Linked DNA regions of Homo sapiens: region 2 is linked to region 1. The links come from fine-mapping of genetic effects on gene expression. A gene starts in region 1. The other region holds a variant in brackets. All regions are shown on one strand. Distances are from middle to middle. Region 1 holds the start of NPLOC4 (NPL4 homolog, ubiquitin recognition factor). Region 2 overlaps NPLOC4 (NPL4 homolog, ubiquitin recognition factor).

Evidence for each region. PIP is the estimated chance that this variant, and not a neighbour inherited with it, causes the effect.
Region 2: its variant is the best candidate, but not a certain one, in a credible set for the expression of NPLOC4 in monocytes after LPS (Quach 2016, PIP 0.55).

Annotation. Positions count from the first base shown.
Region 1 is chr17:81,632,534-81,640,859 of GRCh38, forward strand. NPLOC4 (NPL4 homolog, ubiquitin recognition factor) reads right to left here and starts at 4,579. Exons shown (of 17, transcript NM_017921.4): 1 at 4,383-4,579. The coding sequence starts at 4,397. It overlaps TSPAN10 (tetraspanin 10), which reads left to right and starts at 4,663. Exons shown (of 4, transcript NM_001290212.2): 1 at 4,663-4,873. RefSeq lists a silencer at 4,309-4,518.
Region 2 is chr17:81,559,043-81,567,368 of GRCh38, forward strand. NPLOC4 (NPL4 homolog, ubiquitin recognition factor) reads right to left here. Exons shown (of 17, transcript NM_017921.4): 16 at 6,463-6,565; 17 at 1-374. The coding sequence ends at 217. Among named protein-coding and RNA genes, the nearest start is that of FAAP100, 11 kb to the left of the region's middle. RefSeq lists enhancers at 1-170, 171-670, 1,947-2,046. The variant A/G (reference allele first, on the strand shown) is at 3,247.

The DNA.
Region 1 (8,326 bases):
GAACTCCTGACCTCAAGTTATCCACCCACCTGGGCCTCCCAAAGTGCTGGGATTACAGGTGTGCACCACCACACCCGGCCTCCCTTATTTCCTTTTTCATAAATTCTATAACTATTTTCTGTGAGGTTACCACGAGTGTTACATTAAACATCCTCTTCAACCATTATGCAGATGAAAACTGTCACAAGCCATTGTCTAAAAAAGATTTCCACTGATACAGGACAAAACACCATAAAGGCTCAGTCTACTGGGATTTGTCCGCTTTTAGTAAAGTAACTAAGCCTAATCTAGATTTTCCTAAAATAGGATAACCCTGTCCTGCATTTTCCCATAACTTTCACTTGGCAGAAAAGGCTCCACCCAATATGTTCTCAACTTTTAAGTCAGGAGATTGAGACCATCCTGGCTAACACGGTGAAACCCCATCTCTACTAAAAATACAAAACATTAGCCAGGCGTGGTGGAGGGCGCCTGTAGTCCCAGCTACTTGGGAGGCTGAGGTAGGAGAATGGCGTGAACCCAGGAGGCAGAGCTTGTGGTGAGCAGATCGCGCCACTGCACTCCAGCCTGGGTGACAGAGCAAGACTCCGTCTCAAAAAAAAAAAAAAAAAGAAAAGAAATACAATTCTTTATACTTCTAACGTCTAGTATACTTCATTCTAGATTCAATACCCCAGAAAAACGTTTTCACAATATATAGCATTAGGTAAATACTTCCACTTATTTGTTTCTAAAATCTGTCTGCCAACACTTAGCTATCTTAAAAAGGAAAGCTCTGTTCTAATGAAGGGGAACATGTGAATGTTCCTTCAAACGATGACTCTGGAACAAGAGCATGTTACCGCCATTCTTTACAGAGCTAAATGGTTCAGGCTGCAGAATTCTAAGGTGAAGAAGTCATCCTACTTGATCCTCTACCACAGAAGATGGGAGTCCAGGTTTCCAAGGCCAACTCCAGTATTTAACAAGAGACAAACATAATTTGTACGATGGAAAGTTCTGGCCTAGCCTCTGACACAGACTACAAAATGAAATACACAGGAAGAGACAGACCTGACAACATGAACACACAGCCTCTTGGTAACTTAAGTTTCCCTATTTATAAGAAAATAAGACTAGAACGCTTCTTGGGGAAGTTGAAGAACTGGTGAGATACAGTTAAATCCACAGAAACTCTTTTCTCCCCCCAAGACAGAGTCTTGCTCTGTCACCCAGAGTGGGAGTGCGATGGCGCGACCTCGGTTCACTGCAACCTTTGCCTGCCGAGTTCAAGCAATTCTCTTGCCTCAAGCCTCCCAAGTAGCTGGGATTATAGGCGCCCGCCACCGCGCCCAGCTAATTTTTTTTTTTTTTTTAAGAGTCTCACTCTGTCACCCAGGCTGGAGTGCAGTGGTGCGATCTCGGCTCACTGCAATCTCCGCCTCCCGGGTTCTAACTTTTCTGCCTCAGCCTCCTGAGTGGCTGGGACTACAGGTGCACGCCACCACGCCCGGTTAATTTTTTGTATTTTTTTTTTTTAGTAGACGTGGGGTTTCACCGTGTTGCCCAGGCTGGTCTCAAACTCCTGAGCTCAGGCAATCCACCTGCCTCGGCCTTCCAAAGTGCTAGGATTACAAACGTGAGCCACCACGCCCTAATTTTTGTATTTTTAGTAAAGACGTGGTTTCACCATGTCGGCCAGGCTGGTCTCAACTCCTGACCTCATTATTCACCTGCCTCGGCCTCTCAAAGTGCTGGGATTACAGGTGTGAGCCACCATGCCCAGCCCAGAAACTTTTCAAAAGATCTCTTTCTTAAATTCAAAATAACTTTTTAAATCAATTTCAAAAGAAGAGTGTTTTAATTCCTCACAATCTGAGACATTCAACGAGATCCAATGCTGTCAATGAGAGCCTAGCCTTATACACTAGTGGGAAAAAAAAAATGGCCTTGTCTGAAACACTTTTCACTTGTCAATGGTTATTTTAACTCAGTTAAAAGTACAAAGGTAGTTTGAAAGAAGGTTTCAGTGCTAATTCCTAACCTATTTCTAGGCAAAGTCACCAATGATTAACACTTTTTTTTTTTTTTTTGAGACAGTCTTGCTCTGTCGCCCAGGCTGGAGTGCAGTGGCGCAATCTGGGCTCACTGCAACCTCCACCTCCCGGGTTTGAGCGATTCCCCTCCCTCAACCTCCAGAGTAGCTGGGATAACAGGTGCATGCCACCACACCCGGCTAATTTTTTATTTTTAGTAGAGACAGGGTTTCACCATGTTGGTCAGGCCAGTCTTGAACTCCTGACCTCGTGATCCGCCCACCTCGGCCTCCCAAAGTGCTGGGATTACAGGCGTGAGCCACTGCATGGCCACATTTTATTTTTCAAAGGAGTCAAAGGTTTCTTGGCCGGGCATGGTAGCTCAGGACTGTAATCCTAGCAATTTTGGGACCCCAAGGTAGGAGGATCCCTCGAGCTCAGAGACCAGCCTGTACAACATAGTAGAGACCTCATCTCTATAAAAAAATGTTTTTAATTAAAAAGATTTAAAGGCCAGGCGCGGTGGCTTATGCCTGTAATCCCAGCATTTTGGTATGCCAAGGCGGGCGGATCACGAGGTCAGAAGTTCGAGATCAACCTGGCCAACACGGTGAAACCCCATCACCACTAAAAATAAAAAAGACATCAGCCATGCGTGTTGGCGAGCACCTGCAACCCCAGCTACTCGGCTGAGGCAGGAGAATTTCTTGAACCCGAGAGGCGGAGGTTGCAGTAAGCAGAGATCGCACCACTGAACTCCAGCCTGGGCGACAGAGTGAGACTCCATCTCAAAAAAATAAAATAAGGTTAAAAAAAAAAAAAAAAAAGGAGTCGACGTTTCCTAAGTTTCTCCTGGGCCATATATTCATTCCACTCATCTCCAGGTTGGGAAACATGGAGGCACCAAGAGGGCCCCTGACTGGAGAGATGATGGAACCACCAGAGAACAGCCTTGCAAATAAGTGCTAGGTTCTCCTGGAGACCCATTTGTTTGTGTGTGTGAGACAGTCTCATTCTGTCGCCCAGGGTGGAGTCCAGTGACGCCACCTAGGCTCACTATGTTGTCCAGGCTGGTCTTGAACTCCTGACCTCAGGTGATCCACCCACCTGGGCTTCCCAAAGTGCTGGGATTACAGGTGTGAGTCACCGCGCCGGGCCTGGAGACCTATTCTAGACAACACCTGGCAAAACTGCAGAGACTGTCACAATGCTACAGTATGAACATTACTCTTCACCCAATACTGCTAAGCTTCCCCCAGAAATCCCAAATCTTCCTTAATATTAACCAAAATGCTCCTGTCCAATGGTCAGTTAGTTTTTTTCCCATCACATTTACTTTTGGGAAGAAACTTCTCACAACTTAACGAGGGACTGGTTTTCTGATTTGTCACTGATATTTTTTACGTTAAGGAGGAGTGTGTGACAATTTTTTTTTTTTTTTTGAGACGCAGTCTCGCTCTATAGCCCAGGCTGGAGTGCCATGGAGGGATCTCAGCTCACTGTAACCTCCACCTCCCGCGTTCAAGCAATTCTCCTGCCTCAGCCTCCCAAGTATCTGGGATTACAGTGCGCCATGACGCCCGGCTAATTTTTTGTATTTTTAGTAGAGACAAGATTTTGCCATGTTGGCCAGGATGGTCTCGAACTCCTGACCCCAGGTGATCCACCCGCCTCGGCCTCCCAAAGTGCTGACATCACAGGCGTGAGCCACTGCGCCGGGCCGACAATTTCAATTTCAGGTAAAAAGTGAAATCAACATCATTTACAACATTCCTTTTAAAGAGGAATTGTCAAGTTGTCCTTCCAAGTAAGGAGCAAAGCCGGCAAGTTACTGTGTTTTCATTTTCCCAGGTCTTCTGGTGGGGAGGGAGCTCTGTAACGTCCCCGTCTGCAGAGCTGCTCTCCTTAGTGACTCATGACAAGGCACTTGCTGGGAAGCGGGAGAGCAGGAGGAGAGAATCAGAGGGAGATTAGGATAAGAGGTGTCCCTGGCTCTGAGAGGGGCAGGACTGGCTGGGAGTCCCTGGAATTAGACCAGGAAGTCTCCTGGAGCCGGGAAACGGGTGGGGAAGGAGGGCGGTTTCTCTTCGCCACAGTCCATTCTCCCTGCTTAGAAAGGCTCGGCCTTTCCCTGCCCAGGGCGGGGAACCGGGGTCGTAAGTCCCCTGGGGAGGGACACGGACGGGAAGCAGCCGAGGGGGGTGAAAGTCCCCGAGAGGGGCCCAGCCACTACAGAGAAAGCCCTGGCGAGAGAAGAGAAAGGGGCCGAGTCGCGGCGCCGGCAGGCCCGCCTCCCCCACAGGCCGAGGCCGGCAAATCTGCTGCCTCATCCCGGCGTCCCCGCTCCCGCCCGGCCGCCGCACTCACGATGCTCTCGGCCATGGCGGCTGCTCCTGCCTCCGGGCTCGAGCCCCGGGCCGCCGCCGCCTGCCGCCCCAAGGGCCTCGCAGACCCGGCCGCGGCCTCAGCCCCGGCCCCGGCCTCCCTACGCCGCCGCCACCGCCGCTCCAGCTTCGCCCGCCCGGCTCCGCCAGCCGCCGACGTCCCGGTGCCTCGCTCAATACGCTCCCCTCGGGCGCGAGGCCGGGAAACCAGGTTCCGGCCCCACCAACGGCTCGACGCATGCGCAGGGCGGCGCCGCTGACCCGCCCCCGCCATCCCTGCAACTGGAGGAGGGGATTTTGGAAAGTTGCGTCTGAGATTACTTCTGCTCGTCCTCGGAAACCCAAGCGGCACAGGAAAGTCCAAAAAGGAAGCAAAGACGAGCATCCGAAGTCTCACCCAAAAATAACTACTGCTGCGTATTATAGCGTATTATAATTGGGGAAACAGCATTCCAAACTTCTCTCCATGCACAGGTAAGTAGAGAAACAATTTCAGGAAGGCAGGATCACACCTTCATGTTTTTTTTTTTAAGTATTTTTTAAATTTAACATAAGAAAAACAAACGAGTTTAAACTGCATTTCAGGCCGGGCGCGGTGGCTCATACCTGTAATCCCAGCATTTTGGGAAGCCAAGGTGGACGGATCACCTGAGGTCAAAAGTTCGAGACCAGCCTGGCCAAAATGGTGAAACCCCGTCTCTACTCAAAATACAAAATTAGGCCATACGCGGTGGCTCACGCCTGTAATCCCAGCACTTTGGGAGGCCGAGGCAGGTGGATCACCTGAGGTCAGGAGTTCAAGACCAGCCTGACCAACGTGGTGAAACCCCGTCTCTACTAAAAATACAAAAATTAACTGGGCGTGGTGGCGGGCACCTGTAATCCCAGCTACTCGGGAGTCTGAGGCCGGAGAATCTCTTGAAGCGAAGAGGCGGAGGTTAGAATGAACTGAGTTGGTGCCACTGCACTCCAGTCTGGGCGACAGAGTGAGACTTCATCTCAAAAAAAAAAAAAAAAGACGTCACTTCACAGATTCTAAGGATTTTTGGAGTTGGATACCAGGAAACCGGAAGACTAAATGTATACATATTTCACAACATCACAATTACTGTGACAGTTTTTTTAAACTATGTTAAATTACATTAATTGATTAAATTATGTTAGTAATTGTATTAGTTTGCTCAGGGTGCCACTGTAACTACCCAACATATTGTCCCTGCCCACTGCCTAGACTTTATCAAGACAGGGGAATTGCAATAAAGAGTTTAATTCACACAGAGCCAGCTTGTACAGGTTACTGAGGTTTTATTACTACTCAAAAAAAATTAGTGTCCTTGAGAATTCAGGGATCAGAGTTTTTTGTTTTTTGTTTTTTTTTGTTTTTGAGTCCGAATCTCACTCTGTCACCCACACTGGAGTGCAGTGGCGCGATCTCGGCTCACTGCAACCTTCACCTCCTGGGTTCCAGTGATTCTCCTGCCTCAGCCTCCCGGGTAGCTGGGACTACAGGCGCACACTACCATGCCTGGCTAATTTTGTATTTTTCGTAGAGACGGAGTTTCTCCATGTTGGTCAGGCTGGTCTTGAACTCCTGACCTCAGGTGATCCGCCCACCTGGGCCTCCCCAAAGTGCTGGGACTATAGACGTGAGCCACCGTGCCCGGCTGGGGATCCGCGGTTTTAAGGATAATTTGGTGGGTATGGGGTCAGAAAGTAGGGAGTGTTGATTGGTTGGGTCAGAGGTGAAATGATAGGGAGTCAAAACTGTCCTCTTGTGCTGAGTCGGTTCCTGGGTGGGGGCCACAAGATATGAGCCAGTTTATCAATCTGGGTGGTGCCAGCTGATCCATGGAGTGCAGAGTCTGCAAAATATCTCAAGCGCTGATCTGTTTTTTAATAGTGATGTTATCCTGAGAAGCAATTTGGGAGGTTTAGAATCTTGTAGCCTCCAGCTACATGACTCCTAAACCATAATTTCTAATCTTATGGCTAATTTGTTAGTCCTGAAAAGGCAGTCTTGTCCCCAGGTAGGAAGGGAGTTTGTTTTGCAAAGGGCTGTTACCATCTTTGTTTCAAAGCTAAACTATAAACTAAGCGCCTCCCGAAGTTATTTCAGCCTACACCCAGGAATGAACAAGGACAGCTTGGAGGTTAGAAGCAAGATGGGTTCAGTTAAGTCCGATCTCTTTAACTGTAATAATTATCTCAGTTATAAGAAAATATAACATAACAAAATCTCTCACAGACTGGGTGGTGGTTTGGAATTACTTTTCTTTTTTTTTTTTTTTTTTTTTGAGTCGGATCTCCCTCTGTCGCCCAGGTTGGAGTGCAATGGCGCGATCCCAGCTCACTGCAACCTCCGCCTCGTGGGTTCAAGCGATTCTCCTGCCTCAGCCTCCTGAGTAGCTGAGATTACAAGCGTGCGCTACCACGCCCGGCTAATTTTTATATCTTTAGTAGAGACAGGGTTTCACCATGTTGGTAAGGCTGGTCTCGATCTCCTGACCTCGTGATCCACCCGCCTCAGCCTCCCAAAGTGCTGGGATTATAGGCATGAGCCACCATGCCCGGCCTGGAATTACTTCCTAACAGTCCTGGAAGCTAGAATCCCAGATCAAGGTGTCAGTAGACGTGGTTTCTCCTTTGTTTTCTTCTTTTTTTTTTCTTTTAAGGCTGGGGTCTTGGCCGGGCGCGGTGGCTCACGCCTGTCATCCCAGCGCGGTGGCTCACGCCTGTCATCCCAGCACGGTGGCTCATGCCTGTCATCCCAGCGCGGTGGCTCACGCCTGTCATCCCAGCACTTTGAGAGGCCGAGGCAGGTGGATCACGAAGTCAGGAGATCGAGACCATCCTGGCTAATATGGTGAAACCCTGTCTCTATTAAAAATAAAAAAAAAATTAGCCGGGCGTGGTGGCGGGTGCCTGTAGTCCCAGCTACTCGGGAGGCTGAGGCAGGAGAATGGCGTGAACCCGGGAGGCAGAGCTTGCAGTGAGCCGAGATCACGCCACTGCGCTCCAGCCTGGGCGACAGAGCAAGACTCCGTCTCAAAAAAAAAAAAAAAAGAAAAGACTGGGGTCTCACTCCCATCGCCGAGGCTGGAGTGCAGTGGCACAATCGTGGCTCACTGTAGCCTCGACTTCCCAGGCTCAGGTGATACTCCCACCTCAGCCTCCTCAGTAGCTGGGACCACAAGTGCTCACAATCACACCTGGCTAACTTTTTGTATTTTTAGTAGAGATGGGATCTTGCTATGTTGCCCAGGCTGGTCTCTAACTACTACTAGGTTCAATCAATCCACCCACCTCAGCCTCCCAAAGTGCTTAGATTACAGGCATAAGCCGCTGTACCCAGCCAGGTTTCTTCTTATACCTCTCTCCTTAGCTCGAAGATGGCACCTTCTCCCCGAGACCTCACATGTTTTTTCTTCTGTGCACACATTCCTCGTGTCTCTCCATGTGTCCCACCGTGTGTCCCAATTTTCTTGTAAGGATGTTGGATTAGGGCCCACGCTAATGGCACTTATTTATTTATTTAGGGATGGAGTCTTGCTCTGTCACCAGGCTGGAGTGCAGCGGCACCATCTCGGCTCACTGCAACCTCTGCCTCCTGGGTCCCAGCAATTCCCCTGCCTCAGCCTCCCATGTAGCTGGGATTACAGGCATGCGCCACGATGCCCAGCTAATTTTTTGTACTTTTAGTAGAGACAGGGTCACACCATGTTGGCCAGGCTGGTCTCAATCTCCTGACCTCATGATCCACCTGCCTCGGCCTCCCTAAGTGCTGGAATTACAGGTGTGAGCTACCGCGCCCAGCCCCTAATGGCCTTTAAAGGCCCTGTCTCCAAGTCCCATTCTGAGGTCCGGGGGGCTAGAACTTTATCATAAGAATGTAAGGGGCACAATTCAGCCATAACAGTGGTAGATGAT
Region 2 (8,326 bases), 73 kb before region 1:
ACTGCATTCAGCCTGCAGAATACCAGCCGTGGCGCCCGCTCTCCAGGGAGGAACGTGCTGAGAAGCTTCAGTGGGTCAGGGAGCCCAGGACAGCCAGCCCCTTGTTCCTCCAGGGCTGCCCACTATGGGGCAGTTACAGGGAACACACTCAGCAACGCTTCTGGCTTCAGGAAGGGCTGGGCTGGGCCCGGTCCTAGCCAGCAGAGGGCAGGCGCCCTAGGTCCTGGGGAGGCTGCACATCTCGCAGTGGCCTGTGCCTGGCTGGTTCATGAACGTGCAGTGCTGACAGGCCCACATGGCTGCAGTGGCCGTGTGTGTGGAGCCCCCGACGGCGCCGTACTCATGGAGACCTGGGAGCTGCCCGCCAACTGTGCCTGCAGGGTGGAAGAGAAATGAGCACTCATCATTTCTGGCCCACCAGAGACTGCCAGAGTGTGGGCATGGGGGCAGGGGCAGGCAGCTGAGAGCTCCCCGCCCCCAACATCCCACCCAGTGCTGGTCCTGCCCACACAGCACTCCCACCACAGGCACACTTTGAAGTGCTTAATGCCCTCAGAAAAATGCCTCCTGCACCACAGGGAGTAACAGGGAGCCTGTGCTTGCTGGTTCCTTTTTGTTGCAGAGGGTGCTTCTCCTTGTGAATAACGTAACTCCCCGGGGGATGTGCATTTGGGTTGTTTCCAGCTTTTTTTTTTTTTTTTTTTTTCTGAGGTAGGGTCTTGCTCTGTCACCCAGGCTGGAGTGCAGTGGCACGATCTCGGCTCACTGCAACCTCCACCTCCCGGGTTCAAGCGGTTTTCCTGCCTCAGCCTCCCAAGTAGCTGGGATTACAGGCATGAACCACAATGCCTGGCTAATTTTATCTATTTTTTGGTAGAACTAGGGTTTCACCATGTTGGCCAGGCTGGTCTCGAACTCCTGACCTCAGGTGATCCACCCACCTTGGCCTCCCAAAGTGCTGGGATTATAGGTATGAGCCACCATGCCCAGCCTCCAGTTTTGAGCTAATATGAACAAAGTTGCCAGGATCATTCTTCTACAATTTCTTTGTGGACCTGTGTTTTTATTTCTCTTGGATAAAAACAAAGAGTGAGGCTGGGTGCAGTGGGTCACGCCTGTAATCCCAGCACTTTGGGAGGCCGAGGCGGGTGGATCACTTGAAGTCAGGAGTTTGAGACCAGCCTGGCCAACATGGCGAAACCCGGTCTCTACTAAAAATAATTAGCCAGGCGTGGTGGTAGACACCTGCCGTTCCGGCTACTCAGGAGGCTGAGGAAGGAGAATCCCATGAACCCGGGAGGGGAAGCCTGCAGTGAGCCGAGACCCTGCCTCTTCACTCCAGCCTGGGCGACACAGCGAGACTCCATCTCAAAAACAAACAACAGGCCGGGCGCGGTGGCTCATGCCTGTAATCCCAGCACTTTGGGAGGCTGAGGTGGGCAGATCACAAATTCAAGAGATGGAGACCATCCTGGCTAACATGGTGAAACCCCGTCTCTACTAAAAATGCAAAAATTACCTGGGGGTGGTGGTGCGCACCTGTAATCCCAGCTACTAGGAAGGCTGAGGAAGGAGAATGGCGTGAACCTGGGAGGCGGAGGTTGCAGTGAACCGAGGTTGCAGTAAGCCGAGATCTCAAAACAAACAAACAAACAAACAACAACAACAAAAAACCTACCTAGGAATGAATCTGCCGGCCCACAGGGTAATGAATTGTGTGCTGAACTTTCTAAGACCCTGAGACACAGTTCTCGCGAGGGTGGCACGGTTTTGCCTCCCACTCGCAAGGTACGAGAGTCCCAGCTGCTTCACATCTTCACTCACACTTGACATTGTCGCGTTTTTTTCATTTCAGCCACACTGATGAATGTGTAACGGCTTCTCATGTTTTAATTTGCATTTCCCTGATGACTAATGATAGTGACTGTTCCTGCATCTCCTTTTTTTTGTTGTTGCCGAGGCTGGAGTGCAATGGCGCAATCTCGGCTCGCTGCAACCTCTGCCTCCTGGGTTCAAGCGATTCTCCTACCTCAGCCTCCCAAGTAGCTAGGATTACAGGCACGTGCCACCACACCTGGCTAATTTTTTTTATTTTTAGTAGAGATGGGTTTTCACCATGTTGGCCTGGCTGTCTCGAACTCCTGACCTCAAATGATCCACCGCCTCGGCCTCCCAAAGTGCTGGGATTACAGGCGTGAGCTACCATGCCCGACCTGCATTTCCTTTTGTGAAACGTTTCACCCTCCGCCCAGCTTCTTCTTCTGCTTTCTGTTTGATTAACAACAGGCAGAGTTATTTTTAAGTTTCAGATAGAAGTCATGTTGTGTGTATGTACTGCTAATACTGCGTCCCCCATTGGTGCCTTTTCATGTTTCTAACAGTGCCCTGTGATGAGCACAAGTGTTTTGTTTAGATAAATTTATTTATCAATTTACCTATTTTTATGCCAGTGTTTTTCTGTGTTCTACCCCAAGGTCCTGCATCCTGCCTAAAAGAATCTTTGCGTACCCCAAGGCCCTGAAGAGATTCAACTTAATAACTGTTTTACAGTTTTTATTTTTTTAAGACAGGGTATTGCTCTGTCATTCAGGCTGGAGTGGTATAATCATGGCTCACTGTGACCTCGACCTCCTGACTCATGGGATCCTCCCATTTCAGCCTCCCCAGAAGCTGGGATTATAGGCGTGGACCACTCACCATGCCCAGCTAATTCTTTTTTTTTTAATATTGTTTTTTTGTACAGACGGGGCTTCACTATGCTGTGTGGGCTGGTCTCACACTTCTGGGCTACAGTGTCCTCCAGCTTTGGCCTCCTAGAGTGTTAGGATTATAGCTATGAGACATCATGCCCAGCCTGCTTCATAGTTTTACCTTTTACCATTAGGCCTATGACCCATCCTGAGCTGATCTTTGTGTCTTGTGTATACACGTCTGTAATCCCAGCACTTTGGGAGACCGAGGCAGGTGGATCACCTGAGGTCAGGAGTTCCAGACCAGCCTGACCAACATGGTGAAACCCCATCTCTACTAAAAATATAAAAATTAGCCAGGCGTGGGTGCACGCCTGTAGTCCCAGCTACTCGGGAGGCTGAGGCAGGAGTATCACTTGAACCCAGGACGTGGAGGTTGCAGTAAGTGGAGATCATGAGATTGCACTGCAGCCTGGGTGACAGGGTGAGATTCCGTCTCAAAACAAAACAAAACAACCCATGAGGGCCGGGCGCGGTGGCTCACACCTATAATCCC[A/G]GCACTTTGGGAAGCCGAGGTGGGTGGATCACTTGAGGTCAGGAGTTTGAGACCAGCCTGGCCAACATGGAGAAACCCTGTCTCTACTAAAACTAAAAAAATTAGCTGGGTGTGGTGGCAGCCACCTGTAATTCCAGCTACTTAGGAGGCAGAGGCTGGACAATGGCTTGAACCCGGGAGGTGGAGGCTGCAGTGAGCTGAGATCACACTACTGCACTCCAGCCTGGGCAACAGAACAAGACTTTGTCTCAAAACAAACAAACAAAAAACCCATGAAAAAATGCCCAACATCACTAATCATCAGAGATGCAAATTAAAACCACAGTGAGATACCAGTCAGAACTTACACCAGTCAGAACTGCCTATTATTAAAGAGTTGGCTGGACATGGTGGCTTACCACTGCAATCTCAGCACTGAGGCGGGAGGATCGCTTGGGCCCAAGAGTTCAAGACCAGCCTGGGCAACATAGTGAGACCTCATCTCTACAACAAATTTAAAAAATCAGCCAGGGATGGTGGCACATGCTTGTAGTCCCAGCTGCTCAGGAGGCTGAGGCGGGAGGATTGTTTGAGCCTGGGGAGGTCAAGGTGAGACTGACCTCAAATGCCACTGCACTTCAGCCTGGGTGACAGAGTGAGAACCTGTCTCAAAAAAAAAAGGAGGGGGGAAAAAAAAAAGGTCAGGTGCAGTGGCTCACAGCTGTAATCTCAGCACTTTGGGAACCAAGGCAGGAAGATCACTTGAGCCTAGGAGTTTGAGACCAGCCTGGGCAACATGGCAAGACCACATCTTTTTTTTTTTTTTGAGACAGAGTCTTGCTCTGTCGCCCAGGCTGGAGTACAGTGGCACGATCTCAGCTCACTACAACCTACGCTTCCTGGGTCAAGTGATTCTCCTGCCTCAGCCTCCTGAGTAGCTGGGATTACAGGCGCTCGCCACCATGCCCAGCTAATTTTTGTAGTTTTAACAGAAATGGGGTTTCACCATGTTGGCCAGGATGGTCTCAATCCCTTGACGTTGTGATCCACCTGCCTCAGCCTCCCAAAGTGCTGGGATTACAGGTGTGAGCCAGCCACCGGGCCCGGCCAACCCTATCTCTTAAAGAAAAAAAAAAAACACCAACCAAAAACATTAGTTGGGTGTAGTGGCTCATGTTTATACTCCTAGGTACTCCGAAAGCTGATGCAGGAGGATCGCTTGAGCTCAGGAATTGAAGGCTGTAGTGAGCTATGATCACTCCACTGCACTCCAGCCTAGGCAACAGAGTGAAACCCTGTCTCTAAAAGGGAAACAAAAAAGAAAAAAAAAAAAAAGACTGGTGTCATTGTTAGAACTGCATCAAAGGGCTGGGTGCAGTGGCTCCCAGGTATAATCTCAGGACTTTGTGAGGCTGAGGTGCAAGGAATGCTTGAGGCCAAAGTTTGAGACCAGTCTGGGCAACACAGTGAGACCTCATTGATACAAAAATATTAAAAAATTTTGCAGCCATAAAAAGGAATGAAATCATGTCCTTTGCAGCAACATGGATGCAGTTGAAGGCCATTATTCTAAGCAAACTAATGCAGGAACAGCAAACCAAATACTACATGTTTTCATTTATAAGTGGGAGCTAAACATGGGTACTCACGTACATAAAGATGGCAACGCCAGGTGTGGTGGTACACATCTGTAATCCCAGCTACTCGGGAGGCTGAGGGAGGGGAATTGCTTCAACCCAGGAGGCAGAGTTTGCAGTGAGCTAAGATTGCGCCACTGCACTCCAGCCTGGGAGACAGGGTGAGGCTCCAGCTCAAAACACACACACACACACACACACACACACACACACAAAGAGCAGGGCGGGCTGAAAAACTATTAGGTACTATGTGTAGTACCTGGGTGATGTGATCAATCATACCCCAACCTCAGCATCAGGCAATATACCCAGGTGACAAACCTGCACATGTACCCTGTGAATCTAAAATAAGTTAAAATTATTTTTAAAAAACAAACAAATAAAAAGCAACAACAAAGCCCCAAGAATTAGCTGGGTGTGGTGTTGCAAGCCTGTGGTCCCAGTTACTCAGCAGGCTGAAGCAGAAAGATCACTTGAGCCTGGAGTTTGAGGCTGCAGTGAGTTACGATTGTGCAACTGCACTCCAGCCTCGGCAATAGAGTGAGACCCTGTCTCTACAAAAATAAAAATAATAAACAAAGAATTGTGTGAAAAGAAAACCTCGGCTGGGCGTGGTGGCTCACACCTGTAATCCCAACACTCTGGGAGGCAGAGGCAAGCAGATCACAAGGTCAGGAGTTCGAGACCAGCCTGGCTAACATGGTGAAACCCTGGCTCTACTAAGAATACAAAAATTATCCAGGCATGGTGGCACATGCCTGTAGTCCCAGCTACTCAGGAGGCTGAGGCAGGAGAATCGTTTGAACCCAGGAGGTGGAGGTTGCAGTGAGGCAAGATCACGCCACCACACTCCAGCCTGGGTGACAAGAGCCAAACTCCGTCTCAAAAAAAAAAAAAAAAACAGGAAATGGTATAAAGGTGTTTGATGTGTCTTTTGAAGGCTGTGTTAACAGAAGGATTCTAGCATTTGTCCAGGGCCGTAGCTCCCGGGCACTCTGGTGCTCTCAGCTGCAGGGACTCAGGGCACTCGGGCTGCACGAGGCACCACGGTGCGTGAGGAGTCCCTGCAGCAATGCTGACAGAAGGTTCTCACGAGTGGGGAATCGTTCAGGACCTGGTGACTGAGGGTCCGGAAGACACGCAATGCCTGCGGTCCGTTCCGTAGTGTCCACCAGCAACAACATGGATGCTGCAGGCTTCTCCTCCTTACAGCTTTAAGCACTAAAGGGAAATTCTCAAGGAGACCAAAAGGTCCCACGCTTCCGGCGCTTCCATAAAGTTTCTGATTCTCTTAAGACAATGATGTTCAAAGTGCTCCTAGGATGCCTGGAGATTAGTATCTCTGATGTACAGGTTTATAAAATTTACAGGGCTGTGTACCTAAGACGTACGGCCTGGACAACATGTCTGCTCCATCACCGGAGCCTGCCACGTGCCTGGCAGGGAGGCCGAGTCTCTACTCGTTGCATTGCCGATGGCACCTGCCAGGATGCAGCTGGGTGCGGAATCCAGGGCACCACCGGCAGTGGGGAGCTGTGCAGAGTGGGCTGCTCTCCGGCCCCAGCCACGGGGTGCCGGGGCAGGGGGTGGGGGTACTCACTGCACAGCTGCTCGATGGTGGCCCACTGCTCAGACCTCTTCCATGTCTGGGCGAGCTCCTCATTTCTGGTCCGCACGGCCTCCAGCAGCAAGCTGATGCTGTCCTACAAGAAGCCAAAAGGAAGGTTCCTCTTCGCTGTGCCTAAGGTGAGCAGCTTCCTGCTAGAACAGGTTTCTTTCTCCCCAACATCAAGACGTATTTCTGAGGACATTTTAAAAATCTTACAGGCTATCACTATAAAATGCAAACTGCCACAACTTACATCTATAAACGCAAGTGCTAAATTGAACTAGAATTTAAATTCTTCCCAAATAGGCCCAAGCGGGCATCTGTGCCTCTGCCTTGTGCTGACGGTGCTCAACAGCCCGGAGGATAGGAGCTCATGCCTCTCGTCCTGGAGGCTGGGATGGAGGGCGGAAGTCTTGACTGTGAGACGTGTCCTCCTCCCTCACATTTCATCCCTCTGCCTCTTTCTCCTCTCGTGTCTGGAAAAATGCACTCTCTATCCTAGCCTTCCGAGTCAAACTGCAGGGGATTAATGCATTAAGGATGGGCGCAGTGGCTCACGCCTGTAATCCCAACACTTTCAGAGGCAGAGGCAGACAGATCACGAGGTCAGGAGTTTGAGACCAGCCTGGCAAACGTGGCGAAACCCCGTCTCTACTAAAAATACAACAATTAGACAGGCGTGGTTGCGGGCACCTGTAATCCCAGCTACTCGGGAGGCTGAGGCGGGAGAATCGCTTGAACCCAGAAGGCGGAGGTTGCAGTAAGCCAAGATTGCGCCAATGCACTCCGGTCTGGGCAACAGAGCGAGACTCCGTCTTAAAAAAAAATAATTCATATATGAGAAACGGATAAAGCCTTCAGGAGCTCTCAGTACCTCCAGAGAATGTCTTCCAACAGATGACTGCAAAAATAGTGCAGTATACTAGCAAGGTGGCTCTGGTGTAGAGGGAGCCTCACCTTTCACCACCTGTCCAGACAGATGGGCAGCAGCTGAACCTCGGAGCAGGAGGTGCAGTTCCCTGGGCTGACTAGGGAAGGCACAGGCAGGGAAGAGGCACAGGGTGCCTGATGTCAAATACCCGAGTGAGTGGTTTTGAGACAAAATACAGACACAAAATAAACTAGCAGGATACAAGAACAGCTATAGGCTTCCTGACAGAGAAAGGCCGGGGGAGGAGGAGCCTCTCTATTCTGTCTCCTTCAGGGAAAAGTTCTGAGTCAGTGGCGGAGCAGCTCAGAAAGAATTTGCTCCTTTCTCTTTGGCATTTCCTGTTGGCTTGAACAGTGAAGAAAAAGCCAAAGTCGGACCCCTACACACGGCAAGAACCTCCTGGGGGCTGCTGCCCACTGGCCCCCACTACCCAGAGCAGCCACTTCTGCAAAGCACTCGCCCTCTTCTCCCCCAACGGTGTCTCTTAAAAATGCCAACTGTGCAGCTGTGAGCTTGGGGTCTGGAAGCTGGCCAAGCCTTCTGGGCCAAGGCAATAAAACCAGAGTTGATTTAGGAGGAGGGGAGATATGAGTAAAAAGCAGAGGCTGTGACTCTGAAACTGTTAGAACAGGAATTTTTTAAACTGTCTAACTCTAATGCTGGAGGCAGAGCTAAATCACCTCTGCTTCCCATTCGATTGTAACAGATGAAACCGTACTTCCTCACAGAGGTGCAGACACTCAATGGAAATGCTAAAGGTGAAAAAATTAATCTTTCTATCAACAAGCTTCTTGTGAAAAGCTGCTGCCTACACTCTGCCCATAGGACAAATGAGGGGGACAACCTGTGACCCCGAGCTTTGACCCAGTTTCCCAATCATGCTCTGGTCTGGGAGGAAAGAAAGCAAGACACAGGCGTCTCTTT